Regions from separate parts of the Homo sapiens genome. Here regions 1, 2 and 3 are each linked to region 4. Evidence: fine-mapped expression QTL. A gene starts in region 4. Each other region holds a variant in brackets. All regions are shown on one strand. Distances are between the middles of the regions. Region 1 overlaps ELP3 (elongator acetyltransferase complex subunit 3). Region 2 overlaps ELP3 (elongator acetyltransferase complex subunit 3). Region 3 overlaps ELP3 (elongator acetyltransferase complex subunit 3). Region 4 holds the start of ELP3 (elongator acetyltransferase complex subunit 3).

What was found. PIP is the estimated chance that this variant, and not a neighbour inherited with it, causes the effect. A credible set is the group of variants that fine-mapping cannot tell apart.
Region 1: its variant is the best candidate, but not a certain one, in a credible set for the expression of ELP3 in amygdala (GTEx, PIP 0.61).
Region 2: its variant is the best candidate, but not a certain one, in a credible set for the expression of ELP3 in unexposed skin (GTEx, PIP 0.60).
Region 3: its variant is the best candidate, but not a certain one, in a credible set for the expression of ELP3 in blood mononuclear cells (TOPMed, PIP 0.69).

What each region holds. Positions count from the first base shown.
Region 1 is chr8:28,123,118-28,127,117 of GRCh38, forward strand. The region is part of intron 7 of ELP3 (elongator acetyltransferase complex subunit 3); the gene reads left to right. Among named protein-coding and RNA genes, the nearest start is that of ELP3, 32 kb to the left of the region's middle. The variant A/G (reference allele first, on the strand shown) is at 2,320.
Region 2 is chr8:28,174,950-28,178,949 of GRCh38, forward strand. All of the region lies in intron 14 of ELP3 (elongator acetyltransferase complex subunit 3), which reads left to right. It overlaps LOC105379343 (a long non-coding RNA gene), which reads right to left. Exons shown (of 2, transcript XR_949614.3): 2 at 1-3,122. Among named protein-coding and RNA genes, the nearest start is that of ELP3, 84 kb to the left of the region's middle. The variant T/C (reference allele first, on the strand shown) is at 2,398.
Region 3 is chr8:28,186,295-28,191,322 of GRCh38, forward strand. It overlaps ELP3 (elongator acetyltransferase complex subunit 3), which reads left to right. Exons shown (of 15, transcript NM_018091.6): 15 at 3,355-4,859. The coding sequence ends at 3,431. Among named protein-coding and RNA genes, the nearest start is that of ELP3, 96 kb to the left of the region's middle. The variant CAAGGGGCATCTTTTGTTCT/C (reference allele first, on the strand shown) is at 2,062.
Region 4 is chr8:28,090,553-28,095,563 of GRCh38, forward strand. ELP3 (elongator acetyltransferase complex subunit 3) reads left to right here and starts at 2,587. Exons shown (of 15, transcript NM_018091.6): 1 at 2,587-2,681. The coding sequence starts at 2,663. RefSeq lists enhancers at 2,168-2,721, 2,213-2,262.

The sequences.
Region 1 (4,000 bases), 32 kb after region 4:
CTTCTCAAAAAAAGAGAAAAAAAGCTTGGCCATCATTTTAGACATTTTCCTCAAAGCACTGCTTTAGCTGAATCCCACACATTTTGATATGGTGTATTTTAATTATTATTCAATTCAAAATATTTTTTCATACCCTTTATATATATGTATTTGATCCATGGAATGTATAGGAATGGGGTGTTTAATTTCCAAATTTCCAGACAATGAGGTTTTTCTTGATATCTTATTAATTTCTAATTTATTTTCATTTTGGCCAGAGAACCTACTCTGTATAATTTTGGTGTTTTAAAATTTATTGAGACTTGTTTTGTGGCCCAGCATATGTGGTCTCTCTTGGTGAACATGCCATGTGTGTTTGTAAAGAATGTGTGTTCTCAGTTGCTGGGTGTCATGTTCTATAAATATCAGTTAAACCAAGATGGTTGGTAGTAGTGTTCAGGTAAATTTTGTTTTTTATTCTTTTGTAGTTCTATCAATTGCTAAGAGATTGAAATCTCCAAGTATGATTGAGGAACTCTGTACATCTCTCTTCATTTATATTGATTTTTACTGAATGTATTTTGTAAATCTGTTATTAGGTACATACACATCTATGATTGCTGTGTTTTCCTGATGTATGAGCTTTTCACCATTGTGAAATTACCTCTTTATCATCATGAGATGTCCTTCCGCATCCCTGGTCTTGCAGTTTACTTGGTGTTAATTTAGCCGTCATGTGCTTACTGTTTGCCCTGTGTATTATCCTTTTCCATACATTTGCTTTCCACCCATGTTTCTTTATCTTGAAAATGCATTTCTTTAGACAGAAGTCTACAGTAATTGGCTCTTTTTTTTTTTATCCATTTTGCTCGTGTGTGCCTTTTAATTGGAGTGTTTAGTCTGTTAACATTTGATGTAATTATTGATACATCAGTTTAAGCTGATGGTTTGATTTATATCTGCCAGTTTAATCATCTCCTCACTTTGGTTTTCAGTAGCCAAGAATAATAGTTGTAATGAATACTATTATGGTCTAATTCTTTATAATGTATTTTTTCTATATCCTTTAATAGGGAATATCTTCTTAAGAGAAAGGTAGAGGACTCCTTATATCTAGTACAATGCCTTAAGCATAGAATTCTGGTACTTAATAAATGCTAAGTGAATGCGGTGGAAAGAACTGTCCCTTAAGAATCAGGAGACATAGTCTCCAGACTTATTTATATTATTATTTTGCATTATTACCTGGTTTAATCCACTTATTTTGTGTGTGTGATTTAGTTTCCTCATCTATAAAAATGAGGAGGTTTAGGACTATATTATCTCTAAAATTATACCTTTCTGTCATCTATGATTTGAAGCTTTCTAATGAAGAGAATTTTTATCTAAAAGATATGTTCACAAGTTATTCTTCATTTAGCAACCACTTTCTGACAATCATTTTCTATAATGTTTTTATGTATATAACCCTTAAATTTCAATGTGGATATAATATTAAAAGAATGCAATATCTGTGATTCTTTTTTTCTTTTCTATTAATAATGTGTTGCTGCTGGTTCTTTAGCTACACGAGGGGACTACAAAATGATAGTTTTTGTCAGCCATGAAAAAAATCAAACCTCAAACAAAATGTTATAAGCTGTTTTTATATATCTTAAGCCCTGCCAGCTAATGTGATAGGGCACAAGGGTCTTTGATTAGTCTGTAAGCTGCAGTGCCACCAGGTTGGTTTTTCATAGGTAGTACTCATTTTTAAATCAAAATTCTGTCGTTACTTCATTTTGTGTTGGGCGTGGTTAATTTATAGAACCTCATGATATAACCACCAATATCGAGGAAGCAGACTTGACTACCATCTCAAAAAAAGATTGGGGGTAATAGTTATTTTTAAATCCTCAAGCACATCAAACATCCAACTCAGTTAAGTCTAGAGCATCACTAGCAGAGCATTGGGCAGAACTTCAAATTTTATTGAGGTATTTTCAAGATAGGGTAATAGTTAAGAAGAGGAATTTGTTCATGGTGCTGCTGCCAAGGAGTTACACCAATAACTCAAGGTGTTATCAACAATTCAAACAAATCTGGCTGTTCAAAGAAGTGAGTAAACTCCACTGACTTGTTTTGGGACCGTAGATGGAGAAGAGATTGTATGTTGTGACTAACGAAAATGAATATTTCATCTCTGTACCATTTTTTACTGTGCAATTTGGTTTGAACAGGTTGAGTATGAGGTTGCAGCATGTCCACACAGGGAATGTTCTGTAAGCCATTCAGCAACTTGAGCCTTGAGTTCTTGTGAGAGTTTAAGCAGGACTAGACTCAGGCACATCCAGTTGCAGT[A/G]AGGACAGAGGTTTTGAAAGAGGAGCTGCCACGAATTATTTGTAATGAGAGGTGCCCACCTCTTTGATACCACAGCTTCTTGGAGTGAAACAAAAGATAGTTTCCAGAAGATAATAAAGAGACTTTAAAATCAGTGTGCTATCTTCCTTCCATCAGTGTCCCCCTGGTTGGGCCCTTAGTGCAAGGAGACAGTAATAATAGATAGTGCTTCTGTCAAAAGGTCGCTTTCTTCTTTCCAGAAATAGAAACATGCTTCCCAAGAAATAATCTAAATCTATTTATATTTCTGCCACTTCTAGCTTTTTGTTCTGTAGTCATTTCTCTTTTTTTTTTTTTTTTTTTTTTTCTGTATGTCTTATCCCCCCAGCTAGATTGTTAAGCATGTCTGGGACAGGAACTATTATATTTTTACTTTCTGAAGAATACCTGGCCTACTGCTAGGCACCTTCTAAGGTTAACTTTTTGCAAGAGGAAAGATAAGCGGTAGATGTATCTGGAGGCTGCTGTTGGAGTGAAGAGAGACCTCCTATGTTCCCAGTTATGCCTAATTCATTTATTCCTTCTTCAAATTTGTAATTTTTTTTTAATCAACGGAGAATTTTTAGTGTTGAAGCCTTTTAGCCTCTAGACATGTTTGAGCCTGCTGGCTTTCAGGGGCTTCCTGTCCAGATGGAGAGACAGACATAACCACAAATAACAAGGCTGACTACTTGTAGTGTGGGCAGGGTGCTTGGGAATGGGAGCACTGAGATCTCACTGAGGGTGGAGGGGTTCTGGGAAGATGTCATTAGGGGAGAAATGTATTGGAGCTCTGTTTTGAAGGCTGGTAGCCTTTGGTTTTTGTTTGCTTTTAAATTCCTGGGTTATTGTCCCATTTCTCTTCACCCCTGCTCCACAATTTTTAAAAATTCTGTCAACGTAAGGTTTTGACTTAAGCTATGCTTCACAGAGAACATAGCATCTTTTATAGCTGGTGCCACTCCTATGGCATACAGAAAAGCGTAGGATTCAACATAACCCCACAGTGTTGAGCTGTACAGGCTTAAAATGAACCTGTAATACCACAAAAAGAGCAGTGGAATTGGAATCAGAGGATCCCTTTTGAGTCTTGGCCTTGTCTCTCGAGAAGTTGACAGAGTTGCTGCATGCCGAAGAACTTGTAGCCCCCAAAGAGGTATGGGAGTTGAACTAGGTACTGAAGGAGAGCCATGCTTTTGGATGGCTGTCTAAGTGGCACATACTGTTGGATAGCTACCTAAATGATACAGGGGGATCATATTAATACCAGGCCATAAAGTGTCAGCACAGATTGGTTGAAAGCCTGTATGCGCATATTTGCATATTAAAGAACAGTTATGTTGATATATTTACATCTCTGTTAAATGAAGAATCAGATTTGGTGAGATGTAGGATTAGATATAGTATCAAAAAATTTTCATGAGAATACAGTAAGCCTATGGGAAAAATTCATTGTTTTGTCATTCAAATTTGATACAAATTTCTGTTTAATTGCTTTTCAGATGCAAATACAATTCTGGAAAGAGGAAATATAGTGAAAGCCTTTTTATAAATATAAAATATTTTTTCAAAACTTGAGTTGTTTTTTTCTTCCACCATTTCTGTTGCTGCAAAAGGTAATGACATTTCCCGCCTGAGGAAAAACATTTTTGAAATGGAGTTA
Region 2 (4,000 bases), 84 kb after region 4:
CAGCACTTTAAATGTGCCATCCCATTGCCTTCTGACCTCCATAGTTTCTAATATCAGTTGTTAGTCTAATTGAGGATTCCTTCTATGTGATGACTCATTTTGCCTCTTGCTGCTTTCAAGATTCTCTCAGGTTTTCAACAGTTTGACTCATATTGTGATCATTGTGGATCTCTTTGAGGCTATCCTGCTTGGAATTTGCTGAGCTTCTTGAATGTATAGATTCATGTCTTTCAACAAATTTGGGAAGTATTCAGCCATTTCTTTAAACATTTTTTTCTACCCTTTATGTCTCTCATCTCCCTCTGAAACTCCAGCAATGCATATATTGGTATGCTTGATGGTATCCCCCACGTCTTTTATTTTTCTACATTTTTTCTTTCTGCTCCTCAGACTAGATAAATTCAGTTGCATTATCTTAAAGTCCACTGATTCTGTCTGCTGCCTCCTCTTAACTGCCATTGAACACCTCTAGTGAATTTTTTATTTTTACTATCATACATCTCTGTGCCAGAATTTCTATTTTTTAATATAATTCCTGTCTATTGACATTCCTTTTTGATAGTATCCCCTTGATATCCTTTCTTTGTCCATGGTTTCTTGTAACTCCTTAGGCATATTTAATACAGTTGATTTAATGTCTTTGAGTAGTAATCCCAGTGTCTGGATTTCCTCAGGAATAATTTCTGTTGAATTCTTTTTTCCTGTGAATGAGCCATTCTTCCCTGTTCTTTGTATGCTTTACAATTTTATATTGAACTACTGAGAACTACACAATTAGTATAATGTGGTAACTCTGGAAATCATTCTTCTCTTTCTGAGGAGTTGCTTTTGAGGTCTGTAATCATGCATTTGTCTAGTGACTTTTTTTTTTTTTTTTTTTTTGGGGAGTCAGTCTTGCTCTGTTACCCAAGCTGGAGTACAGTGGCATGATCTCGGCTCACTGCAACCTCCGCCTCGCGGTTTCAAGCTATTCTCCTGCCTCAGCCTCCCTAGTAGCTGGGATTACAGGCATGTGCCACCAGGCCTGGCTAATTTTTTTGTATTTTTATTAGAGACGGGGTTTCACCTTGTTGGCCAAGCTAGTCTCGAACTCCTGACCTCAAGTGATCCACCTGCCTTGGCCTCCCAAAGTGCTAGGATTACAGGCATGAGCCACTGCACCCGGCCCTGTCTAGTGACTTTTCCAAACTATTTTTGCAAAGTCTGAGTGTTCTTCATTGTGTGTGTAGTCACTGAAATTTCTGTTCTTATCTCTATGATCAGCCTGTGACCTGAGAGGGATTTTTCTTAAATGTCTGGTTCAAAAAAAGAAAAAAGGATGTGTATCTCTTCAAATCTTTTGATACACTCCACGAAGGAAGTGAGATGGGGTCAAAACAAAGACAAGTGTCTGCACTGGTCCTTCCAGGAACCTCCAAAGTGAACATAATACACAGCCCTATATTTTTGGAGGACTAGGTCCTTATTGCCCACTCCAGTTCCAGCCAGCTGCTCCAGGAAAATAAGTTACCATTCCTGTGGCTACGGTGGAGCTAAGGAATGGGGGATGGTTGGTGGCTTAAGCATGCTGTTCCCTGAGTGAAGTTTTACAGCCTCTCCCTCATCAGACACTCCCCTAGTCACTGTAAGTATCTTACCAAGTTCCAGCATTCCAAAATAGTTGGTTGCAATTATTTTTTTTCCAGCGTAATCGTCGTTTTAGCAGAAGGATGAATCTCTGAAAATTCCTACCTTGCCATTTTCCCTCTTGAAGTCTGTATTTAAAGAGACTATAAATAGAAGGGGTCCCTCTTCCTACCAGGTTATAAGATGGTACAGTCTAACTTCTGCAGAGACACACTAATGATTTTTGACATGAGTAAAGAAGTGAGAATGATGTGTGACATAGCAAACATCCTGCACTGATAGAAACAGAGACCCTCTATTTTTGAATCAGTTGATTGTGGGCCATCCTATGTCACATCATAGGCCAGACTCCCTGAAAGAAAAAAACTCTCTAAGAGCTGTAAGATAACCCACCAGCATCACCCAACTGTAAGTTACCATGGTAGTATCTATTTAGATTCTGTATACCTCCTTTGTAAATTACCTAATTTTATTCTTTGTTCTTATCTTGGTAGCCTTTTCAAAATGTGTAGAAGAACCTTTAGGCTGCTGGGTAGGAGACTCTCTTGAGGTACTCTGTATTTCCACAGTGATGGAGAATAATGTATACTGTGTTAGTTGCAATAACCAGTTTGAAGAACTAAGATTATACATGGGTAACCTTTGTATGATTTTTTTTTTAATAGAATGGGGAAAAAATTCTGAAAGGTTTAGGGTCGTGTAGTTAATTGGTTCATTTTCAAACATTCAGGATAGAAACCTTTTCCCAACTTTGATATCAGTGTACATTGT[T/C]GAAGAGTAAAATATCGCCATCCTGGCAGGAGATCAATGAGAAATAATAAAGTCTCATTTCAATAGCAAGTGAATGAAACTAATGAATATATTTCCTTGTGTTAATGTTGGTAGATACATCAAGTAGGCAATAGTTGATTAATTGAACCCAAAAGCAATTAAAACAGTTTAATTTGTTTTTATTTCACTGATTTCTTTTAATTAAACAATCATAAATCATCTGAATGTTTTGCATCTAATCAAAACAGAAATTTGAGCTTTAAAGGATAGATTTACAAGTTTGGCTGTGAGAATGTGATGTGGGCTCAATTTTAATTCTGTCTAAGAACACATTACTAGCAGTGAAGGGTGGCCTATGTCCTAACAAGTAAGCATCAAAGAACAAGAATGCACCTGTAATAGCTAATTCATTTTCCTGCTTCAGACATGAAAACATTTAAATTATTAAGCCAAGGTTTTTCTTAAGGAATTCCAAGAGATAAAACTCTTCAATTTCCAGGCTCCTAGTACATACTGAGCAAATACTTGATCAATTAAACTTATTTCTTCCTCTGTTACATCACATTAATAATTCCACGTTCATTCTTTATCCAGTTGGAATCACAACCCTGGCTCACTTGTTTTTCCATAGATGTGAAGAATTGATTTCATTCCCCATTTAAGCAGTCACATAGTTGAGATTATTTAATCTTGCCTTCTTTTTCATTTTAAAAGTTTACTGGAAGCTGTAACAAATAGCAGAGTTTATAAAATGTTAAATAACACCTGTATGTCTTAGCTCACTCAGGCTGCTATAACAAAACTGGGTAATTTATAAATGAGAAATTTCTCATAGTTCTAGAGGCCTCGTGACCTAATTGTCACCCAAAGACCTTACCTCTTAATACTATTGCATTGGGGATTAAGTTTCAACATACGAATTTTGTGGGGGATACACATTCGGACCATCGCACTCTCTAACCCCCACTTATGTCAATAACCAGCATCCAAGAAGTGCCTCTGTTGGCCCTTCCCTCTTCCTTCCCAGTATCCTAACTTTTTTGGTATTTTCTTCGTAAGTATGTATCCCTTAACTACATGGTCTAGTTTTGTTGTTGCATATTTTTGTTCTGGTTACTTTTGCTCAACATTGCTGTAAGATTGAGTCAACGTTGTAGTAGCTGTATTTCATTCCTTTTCATTGATATATGGGATTCCATTATGCTGATAGTTCACGATTTATCCGTCTTAACTCTTGCTGGGTTTCCAGGTTAGAGTTATGAATATTCTTGTGTATGTATTTTGGGACACATAAGGACATATTTCTGTAGAATGTACACCTAAGAGTGCAATTGCTGGGTTGTAGAGAGTACATAGATTTAGCTGAGGATTCTGCCAAGTGGCTTTCTAAAGTGCTTCTACAATTTTTCACTACTACAGGAAATGTATGAGTTTTAGTTGTTCCATTCTGATGAATATGAGTGGCATTTCTTTGTGGTTTTAATTTGCGTTCCCTGATAACTGATGATTTTGACTACCTTTTCATGTGTTTACTGGCCATTTGGAGATCCTCTTTCTGAAGTTGCTGTGTGCACATGTGTGTGTGAGTTTTTCTAAAATCCAC
Region 3 (5,028 bases), 96 kb after region 4:
CACCGAGCTGTATACTTAAAAGCAAAAATATCCTCAAAATGGCTTAAACCAAATGGAAAATATTTCATAAGAAATATATAGAGAAGCTTTGGGACTGATTAATTCAGGGTTCGGCAATTTCAAAAAGGAGCCAGGTGGCTCTGCCTTCTCACTCTTCATCACCACTTCAGCCCCTTGGAAGACAACTGCCCCCGTCCGAAATTACCTTGCAAAGCAACATCCAAGAAAAGAGACCGTCCCTAAGTCCATTTTCGATTGCTTATAACAGGATACCTGAAAGGGAATTTATTTATTACAGTTTTGGAGGCTGAAAAGTCCAAGGTCAAAGGGCTGGATCTAGTGAGGGCCTTCTTGCAGGTGGGGACTTTCTGTGGAGTCCTGCGGTGGCACAGGATAGCACATGGCATCACACAGTGGTAGGGCTGCATGTGCCAGCTCAGGACCCTGTTCCTCTTCTTGTAAAACCACTAGAACTCATTATCCTGTTAGTCCATGAATAGATTAATCCTTTCATGAGGGCAGAGCCCTCACACTCTAGTCACCTCTTCATAGCCCCACCTCTCAGTAATAGGGATTAAGTTTCAACATGAGTTTCAGAGGAGACAAATACCTAACCCATAGCACTCCCTGTGTCTCTTTAAGAACAACAAAAGCTTCCAAAATCAGAGTCTTCAGCATCTTGGCATGAATGTCTAGCAGCCATTCCACATGCAGCCTGACTGGAGCCCCACTCCTGATTCCTCTTGCAAGCTCTTCCCACCATCTCCTCACTCCCAGGCAGTGGTGGCTCCTGTTTCTCCAGACTCTTCCTTTACTCAGGCTAAATACCCTGGAGTCGCCTTGGCTCCCGTCACACCCCACATCCGTTGGCAGATTCTTTTCACTCTGCCTTCCACATATGCCCAGGCTCTGGGTACTTTTCACCACTGTGACTCAGCCCGAGCCACCACCATCTCCCACCTGGATTATTGTCATCGCTTCCTACCTGATCTCCCTATTTCTGCCCTTGGTCACATATCCATTCAGTGAGCAAATATTTACCGTGTACCTCACATGTGACAGGCATCACTCTGGGTACTGGCAGCTCTACAGTGAATAAAACAAAATCCCTGCCCTCCTGGAGCCTTCATTCTGTTCTCAAAACAGCAGTCAGATCATGTCCCTCCTTTGACCAGCATCCTCTCATTCTTCCATCTCACTCAGAATAAAAGCCAGATTCCTTAGGAGACCTGCATGATGGTGCCTCCTTGTTCCTTGAGTAAGTTGAGTGCACGCCCGTCTCAGGACTTTCACATTTGTTTTTCCTGCTCCCTAGAATCCTGTCCCCCCCATGTAGCCTCAGGCCTTTCTCTTTCATTTTATTCAAGTCTCTTGATTTGGAATTTGACAGAAAGATGGGAATGAGTTGCCCTGAACAACTGGCAGTGGAGTGGCCATTTACAGAGAGGGAGCTTCCTGCGGAGGGAGCTTGCGGGGCAGGTTACCAGGAGTTGGGTTTTTGACCTGCTACACCTTCCATGCAATTTAGACATTCAGGTGGGTCATGCAGCACCTGTGGACGAATCTGAGGCTCAAGGAGAGCTCTGAGTGACAGATTTAGGGGTTGCCAGTGTATACATAGGTTTACGCTCAGTGTCACAGGAAGCGCGTGCACAGAAGAGCTGCATATTGCAGTGATTTCAGTTAGGGATACGAGGAGGAAGCAGCAAAGGAGACTAAGGAAGGGCAGCCAGCGAGCTAGAGGAGAATCAGGAGATGCACTTCTCCAAAGCCCAGTGCAGGGACGTGCAGAGAGGGAGGGAAGGACGGAGGGAGTGCCTGTGGCAGGTGCTGCTGATCGCTCTCCCCGCCCAGCCTCAGCTGTCTCACTCCCAGGCACAGACAGCCGGGCTGTTTGAGGAATGCGTCCAATATGCAGGGGTAATGGACCTTTAGTACCAACTTCAACTAGTTCATGTTCCTTGAATGTTGAGACATCATAAAAAATATAATTTGGTCTCTGTTCCTGGTTCCTGACATAGAGCTCCTAAAACCCTTGTAATTTTCTGAGCTGCAGGGGTT[CAAGGGGCATCTTTTGTTCT/C]AATCTGGTGACTCTTGGTGGGCTCCTGGGTGGGGACCTGTCACCAGAAAAATGAAGCCATGAGGAGAGGGTTGAACCTTCAGCCCCACCCTCCCTCCTCCGGGGAGGGAAGGGGGCTGGAAATGGAGTTAGTAATTGATCATACCTACACAATGAAACTCCATAAAAATCCCTAAAAGATGGGGTTCAGAGAACTTTTCATTTTGGCAAACACATCCACTTGCTGGGAGCATGGTGCACCCCAACGCGGTGGGGACAAACACTTCTGTGCTCGGGACCCTCCCAGACCTCACCCAGTGTGCCTTTTCACCTGGCTGTTCACTTGTATCTTTTATCATATCCTGTAATAAACTGGTAAACGTAAGTAAATGTTTCCCTGAGCTCTGTGAGCCATTATGACAAATTATCAAATCTGAGGAGGGGCTTGTAGGAACCCTCCATTTGTAGCCAACTTGGACAGCAGTTGTAGGCAACCTGCAGCCCCTCTGCTTGCAATTGGTGTCTGAAGTTGGGGGCAGTCTCTGGACTGAGCTCAGAACTGGGGGGCCTTGCGCTCATCAGAGTAGGTAGGGTCCAAATTGAGTTAAATTATAGAACACCCAGTTGGTGTCAACAGAGAACTGGACAGTTGCTTGGTATGGAAAACCTACACTTCTCTTCACAAACCACACTTCATGAGCCAGGGCCATCCCAGCAAAGCTGCTTCTTTGACACCAACTGATGAGGAAAACACTTTTTCCTGTTAAGCCTTGTATACTTCCAACACTTCTGACAGTAGCCACAAGTGTACCTTCGCTACTGGGGCTGAGTGGAGATCCCATTTTTTCCCCCACTCTTCTCTCTTTAAAACTTCTGGGAAACCGTCTATCGTTTGGCCTCATCTGGAGCATAGGCAGCTCAGACAGTAAATCCACCTCTTCTCCTTCACCTGTAGCACCTAAGGTGGTGCCTGGTGTTGCCAGTAGGGTAGTGAATACGCAGGCTCCAACACACGGGTGCACACGTTTGCTGTTGCCTGTGAGTGTGTGTGTCACATACCCTGAGCTTGAGTTAAAAATCAGGGAAAGAGTCTTCTTCTCTCCACTTAGCAGTTTCTATATTTTAATGCAGCCTGAATTCAAAGTAATAATGTTCCAAACTTATTAAGCTGAGATTTTATGTGGGAGAGAATTTGGTCTCTGGGTGGGAGAGAGTGTAAGGCTGAGGGAAGCACATGCCGACTTTTGAGAATTGCTAAAGTGAATGCTCCTTTTTTAACTTCGATTTTTCTGCAGGGGTCGGCACCAGGAATTATTATAGAAAGATCGGCTACAGATTACAAGGCCCGTACATGGTGAAGATGCTGAAATAATGGCCACACCAGTCCACTCTTCTGCAGTATCCTCCCTGGCAGAACACGGAGAATCAGGATTTCTTAAATACTCAACAGAGAGGCTGAGCAGAGCAAATGGGGGGCTTCACCCTCATCCCGCAGCTGCAGAGACTGGAAACTGCCTTCAAGGCCACGGCTGGTCATCTGCTGACCACACCCCAGATCCGCCCTCTCCTGCGTGCACCCCAAAAAATCACTTGCGTTTTTGAGGCTTAAATCATCTATCCAGTTTCTACATTTTGCATGAGGCCTGCAGGTGGCCTATTTTGACTCAGACGGTGAAAAAAGCAAATTAACTCATTTGGACACCATAACTCATGCAATAAAACTGATTGTCATTCGAGGAGCAAACTTAAGAGTAGTTTATTTATATACCCTGGGGACAGAAAGTCAGGTTGAAACAGGAAAACCACCAGACTCTAATCTCAGCCCTTTAACGACATACGCATTGGAGCGCAAGTTAGGAAAATGAGCTTTTGTTTTCATGGAAATCATTCTGATTACAGTGCTGATGTTTAGAAATAAATAGCAGTGTGACTGGGAAAGAGGAATTGCAGTTGTGGGGGTGTGAGCCTGGCAGCAGCCAGCCAGCAGCCTCTCCCAGGCGGGAGTCTACCATCCGAGACGGCGATGACAAAGAGCTTCATTCCACATTCTTTGTTATCTCTACTTCCCACCCTCTTGGCAACTACAGAGCAGTGTGGGCAGCCCCAAGTGTGGTCCCCAGAGAGCGTTTGGCTTTCCTGTCTGTCTATCCTGAGCGGGTGGAGTCTCAGGTTGTGTGCCCCTAAATCAAGATTTGCTTCCACAGAAGCCATTACTTGCAATTTTTTTTTTTTTTCTGAGAAAGTCTCGCTGTGTCACCCAGGCTGGAGTGCAGTGGCGCAATCTCACTGCATCCTCCGCCTCCCGGGTTCAAGCGATTCTCCCGCCTCAGCCTCCTGAGTAGCTGGGATTACAGGCACCCGCCGCTGCTAATTTTTGTATTTTTAGTAGAGATGGGGGTTTCACCATATTGGTCAGGCTGGTCTCGAACTCCTGACCTCAGGTGATCAACCCACCTTGGCCTCCCTAAATGCCGGGATTACAGGCATGAGCCACCGCTCCCAGCCTTTGATTTTTTAAGGTGGATTTTGGTTGTTATAAATGGAGAAAGGTAAGAGTTCAAGTTCAACCCGTGTGTGAAAGCAAAACAATGGAAAACAGGATTGGCTTCTTCAAAGGCTCCTCTTGTAGAACTGCCTCTTTGAAATTTCGAGGTAATCTACTTTGGAGACTCTGCCTGGAGAGGGTCAGTTCCTAAGTTAAAAGCATCGCTTAACCTTGGCTCCTGTGGCATTTTACAAAGGTTTAAAGGAATTGATTCCTCTGAAAGGGCCTGAAAATAAAAAGTCTTTAACATACAAAGAAGAGTCATGTGGTTTTCTTTCTCTCCCTGTAAATGCAGTGACATTTGCCACAAATGTGCAGGTTTCAGTTTCCAACCTATGGCACTGTTCATTTCCTCCCGGGTGCTGTTTGCCATTTCATTAAACTGCTATGAGGCAAATGGCAGTGGCTTTGTTATGGGCTGGCT
Region 4 (5,011 bases):
AATTTGCTTATTATATCTGCATTGCCATTTACATGGGATAAAGGTCGTTTACCCTTAAAGGTATTGTGTATGTGTCTTTTCTTCTCCCCTCACGCATATCCCACAGAGAACAACCAGAAAGGTGGGACAACTCAAAGCATTGATGTGGGGTCAGGGGGCAACACTTTCAGGTCACAGGCAGATTCAGTTTTCTCTGACTGGCAATTGGTTGAAAGAGTTATTATCTATAGACCTGAAATGAACAGAAAGGAATGTCTGGGTTAAGACACAGAGTTGTGGAGACTAAGGTTTTATCATGCAGAGGAAGCCTCCAGGTAGCAGGCTTCAGAGAGAATAGATTGTAAATGTTTCCTTTTTTTTTTTTTTTTTTTTGAGCCGGAGTCTCACTGTGTCGCCCAGGCTGGAGTGCAGTGGTGCAATCTCGGCTCACTGCAAGCTCTGCCTCCCGGGTTCACGCCATTCTCCTGCCTCAGCCTCCCAAGTAGCTGGGACTACAGGGGCCCACCACCACGCCCGGCTAATTTTTTGTATTTTTAGTGGAGACGGGGTTTCATCATGTTAGCCAGGATGGTCTTGATCTCCTGACCTTGTGATCCGCCCACCTCGGCCTCCCAAAGTGCTGGGATTACAGGCATGAGCCACCGCGCCCGGCCGTAAATGTTTCTTATCAGACTTTAAGAGTCGGTTCTGTGCTCTATCAGCCTTAAGGTCTCTGTGTTGATGTTAACACTGGTTAGCAGCTCCTGAATTCTAAAAAGGAGGAGGGAATAAGGAGGCATGTCCAACCCCACTTCCCATCATGGCCTGAGCTAGTTTTTCAGTTTAACTTTGGAATGCCCTGGGCTGAGAATTATTTTCGGTTTACAGAGGAGAACTTATGTTCATTGGTATAGGATGACAATGAGGTCAGACAAATACCACTGAACTTGGCAGGCTGGGAAGTTACAAAGCTTAGCAAGGCCAGTTTCAGTGTCATAGTGGGGTCAAAGCCTCGTTGTTGCCTCAATTCTAGTAGGGTACATATTCCTGTCTTTATTAATGGGAGAGGTTCTTAATCTCCAGCCCATGGACAAAGGAGATCATAGATGGGTTTCAGGAAAACATCCCAAGTCCTGCCTCCAAATTTTGCAAAATTTTGTGCCTGTGTATTTTTCTGGAGAACGTAAACCAAACAGTGTCTGAGACAGGTCTCAGTCTGGAGGTTTATTCTGCCAAGGTTGAGGACACACCCAGGAAAAAGAGACATAAGTTATCATGGAATCTGTGGCCTGTGGTTTTTCCAAAGAGGGTTTTGAGGACTTCAATATTTAAAGGGAAAGAGCAGACAGAAGGGGAAAGAGGAACAACTATGCATTCATTTCACACTCAGTAAATCTGCCTTTTACAGAAGACAAAGTAAACATAGAGGAAGGAGTCAAATATGCATTTTTCTTGGGGTGGACTGAAGGGTGATTTCTAGTCTTGTCCTTGTCCCCTACCTACTGTAAATTTGCATGGTCAGGGTGGAATTCAACAGAAGTGTTGTAAGGTAAAGACTCTGCCACTCACAAGGAATTTCCCTGTGAGCAACTCCTCTGGGAGGCCACCTAGGGAGATATGTGGGCTTCTGTCTTTGCAGCTGTTTAGGAACAGAAGGAAGGCAGTTTTTGCGTGACTCAGTTCACAAGCTTAACTTTTTGTTGTTGTTGTTGTTGTTGAGACAGGGTCTCGCTCTGTCGTCTAGGCTGGACAACAGAGAATGATCTCCACTCACTGCAACCTCCACTTCCGGGTTCAAGAGATTCTCCTGCCTTAGCCTCCCAAGTAGCTGGGATTACAGGCGTGCACCACCACGCCTGGCTAATTTTTGTATTTTTAGTAGAGACAGGGTTTCACCATGTTGACCAGGGTGGTCTTGAATGCCAGACCTCAGATGATCTGCTGGCCTTGGCCTCCTGAGATGGGCATAGTGCTAGTATTACATGTGTGAGCCACTGCGCCCGGCCCTAAGCTTAACTTTTTTCTTTGGCAGAGTTTAGGGTCCCGAGATGTTATTTTCCTTCCACAAGAGACATCCACAGCTTTCACGATGGTTACCGATCATATGTGCCATTCATCTAAGACCAAGGTGACCACCTGGTCCCAAAGCCTGCACCTCGGATTCTTACTCGATTCCCGCCTGGTCTCTTCCAGGCCCTCAGTTAGTTTCCACAACATGGGAGGGTTCCTCCTCCGTGGTCTCGCCCATTCGCGTTCCCACCCACCCTCCCCGGATGTGACGACCCTGGGCTCCCACTCCCCCCCATGAGAGACCATCCACTTCCACCCTTTCACTTAGGCTTCCTGGCGCAGCCTCTATCCAGGAACTCTGTCCCATAGCTGTACTGCCCAGGTCGAGCTTTCTAACCCCAAGATGCCACTCCGTTCAGACGTTCCCATCCTCCATCCCTGAGACCCGGGGCAGGATCGCAGCCTAGGGGCCTCACGGGCCGCCTGCTACCCTGTTAGTTGCAACACGGGGCGGGGCGTGGCTTTGTGCACGTCGGCTTCCGGGAAGAGCTTTACGATACATTGACCGACATTTTACGACAGGCGGGATTGTTTTGTGGCTGTCAGCTTTCCCCGTGGTCTGAGTTTGTGGCTGCATTTTTATCTCTGGTGGCTCTGCTACGGCGGCGCAGAAATGAGGCAGAAGCGGAAAGGTGCGAAAGGGGAAGGAGATGGGGGAAAGGGGTGGTCCGAAAGGGGCGAACGCCCAGGCAATCAAATGCTGAACCGAACTTTTACCGCGAGAATCCGCTACCCAGTCCAGTCGCCCCGCCACCTAGGGTCAGTGTGTCCATTCTGGTCCCCGAGCCTTCTCGTTTTTCCTGTTTTGCTTTTTGAAGCACCCTACCCTTCCTCTCTTCCTCTTTGGCAGTCACGTGGTGTCTTGTTTGAATGGCAGGGAAACCATTATTCCAATATATGCCCTCCGAGGAGTTAACGTCGATTTAACGGGTTGTAGGACTTTTCATTTGTTAAGATTTGTTTCACGACACATTTGACGTGTTAGAGAGTTTCTTTTAAAGCCTTATTTTAAGATATTAAAAAAACCTTAATTATCCTTGGATTCAGTGTAAGAGTTGTGCATGCAATTATTCCCATTTTTATTACATCATGAGTTAGCAATGAACAATTCCACCTTTGGTTTTTCAACAGGACGGATTCAAATTTGAAATATTCTCTCACAGGTTCTGTTCCTATTTCTGTATCTCACAGGTTCTGTTCCTATTTCATTTGACCAGCTGGTCTAATCATGGTAATTGTTGTCAGAATAATAGCTACCATTTATTGAGCTTGTATTTTGAAGTCGGTATCATTTCCATTTTACAGATGAAGAAGCTGAGATTCAAAGAGTTAAGTAACTTTCCCAGACCAAAATTATACTTAGATATGGAGCTGGCTGGTCAGGCTGTATCTGTGACCTCAAAAAACATAAAATGAAAAATAAATACATCGTTAATCCCTATGCTTCTTGACATTAACTGTTATTTTTCTTTCTTCCAAGCAACAATTCTAAGTGTCCAAGTTACCTTAGATTAAGTCTTGTCATATTTGCATGCCCTAAATTAATTTGTTATCTCACTCTAACTTGCTCCTTCTCAATCTACCAGGATTCTTTTAGTTTCTTCTGTCACCAAGTCATGTTGATTCTTACTTAGAAATTACTTCTTGATATAGTTTATTCCTCTTCATTCTGGCCGCCAACCTCCTAACCCACCTTCATCACTAACTAATATTTGAATGGTATTTCAGCTTTCATATACATTATTTATTTGAGTCTTAGAATGGTTTTGTGAAATTTGGATGTATTACCCCAATTTTACAGACAAGGAAATGGGCACTCAAAAGTTGTTGATCTTGGCCAGGCGCGGTGGCTCATGCCGGTAATCCCAGCACTTTGGGAGGCCAAGGCGGGTGGATCACTTGAGGTCAGGAATTGGAGACCAGCCTGACCAACGTGGTGAAACCCTGTCTCTACTAAAAACACAAAAATTAGCCGGGCGTGGTGGCAGGTGCCTGTAATCTAATCCCAGCTACTTGGGAGGCTGAGGCTGAGGCTGAGGCAGAGGCGGGAGAATCACTTGAACCTGGGAGGTGGAGGTTGCAGTGAGCCGAGATCGCACCACTGCACTCCAGCCTGGGTGACCGAGCAAGACTCTGTCTCAAAAAGAAAAAGAAAAAGAAAAAAAATTGTCGATCTTTTCCGTTACCACACAGCCAGTAGGCATTGGGACTGGATCCTGTCTTAGATTTTGTGGGTTTTTTAAAACAATGTTGCCTTTCAAGAGCCATTTGAGTAGTATCCATATTATATGTATTCTTTTTCACTTTCTGAATCATTCTTTGTACCGATAATATTCTTACCTTCCTTAAACGTTACTTTCAACTTTTTATTTCCAAAGTTGAGAATATGCAATTCTTCACTGTCTGTTGCATTCCATTTCAATGCCTTTGCCTAGTGGCCAGGGTCCCCTGTAATCTGTTCTTTATTACACCCTGTTAGAAAGCTGGATTTTAGTTAGGCTGTGCTGTTTCACACAAAGATAGGTAATTCCTATGCCTGACATTATTTCTTCTGGATTGCCTTCTGTTTTGCATGTCCAAATCTTGCCCTATCTTTAAAGATCCCTGTGCCATTTCCTTCATGAAGTCTTTTCCTACTCATTTACTCTTCCAGTTCTTGATACACTCAAGAGCTATACAAGTGGTTTCCAAATCTTATCTGTTCTTATCAGCCGATCCCCTTTTACCCTCCAAATAAATTCTTACACAGAACCTCAATATATAAACAGCTGAAAGCAGAGCTGCTGTGGTGGAAATAAAGAGACCTCCTCCTTTTTTTCCTCCATGCCTTATTTTCCTCTTCCCTTCTCCCTTCCTCTGCCATGACCACCACCAGTCCTACCTCTGTTGCATGGCCCCTGAGGCACCTTTGTAGAACTCTGGAAGTGCTGAGTTACATGGTTTGGAAAGCATTTAGCCTTTG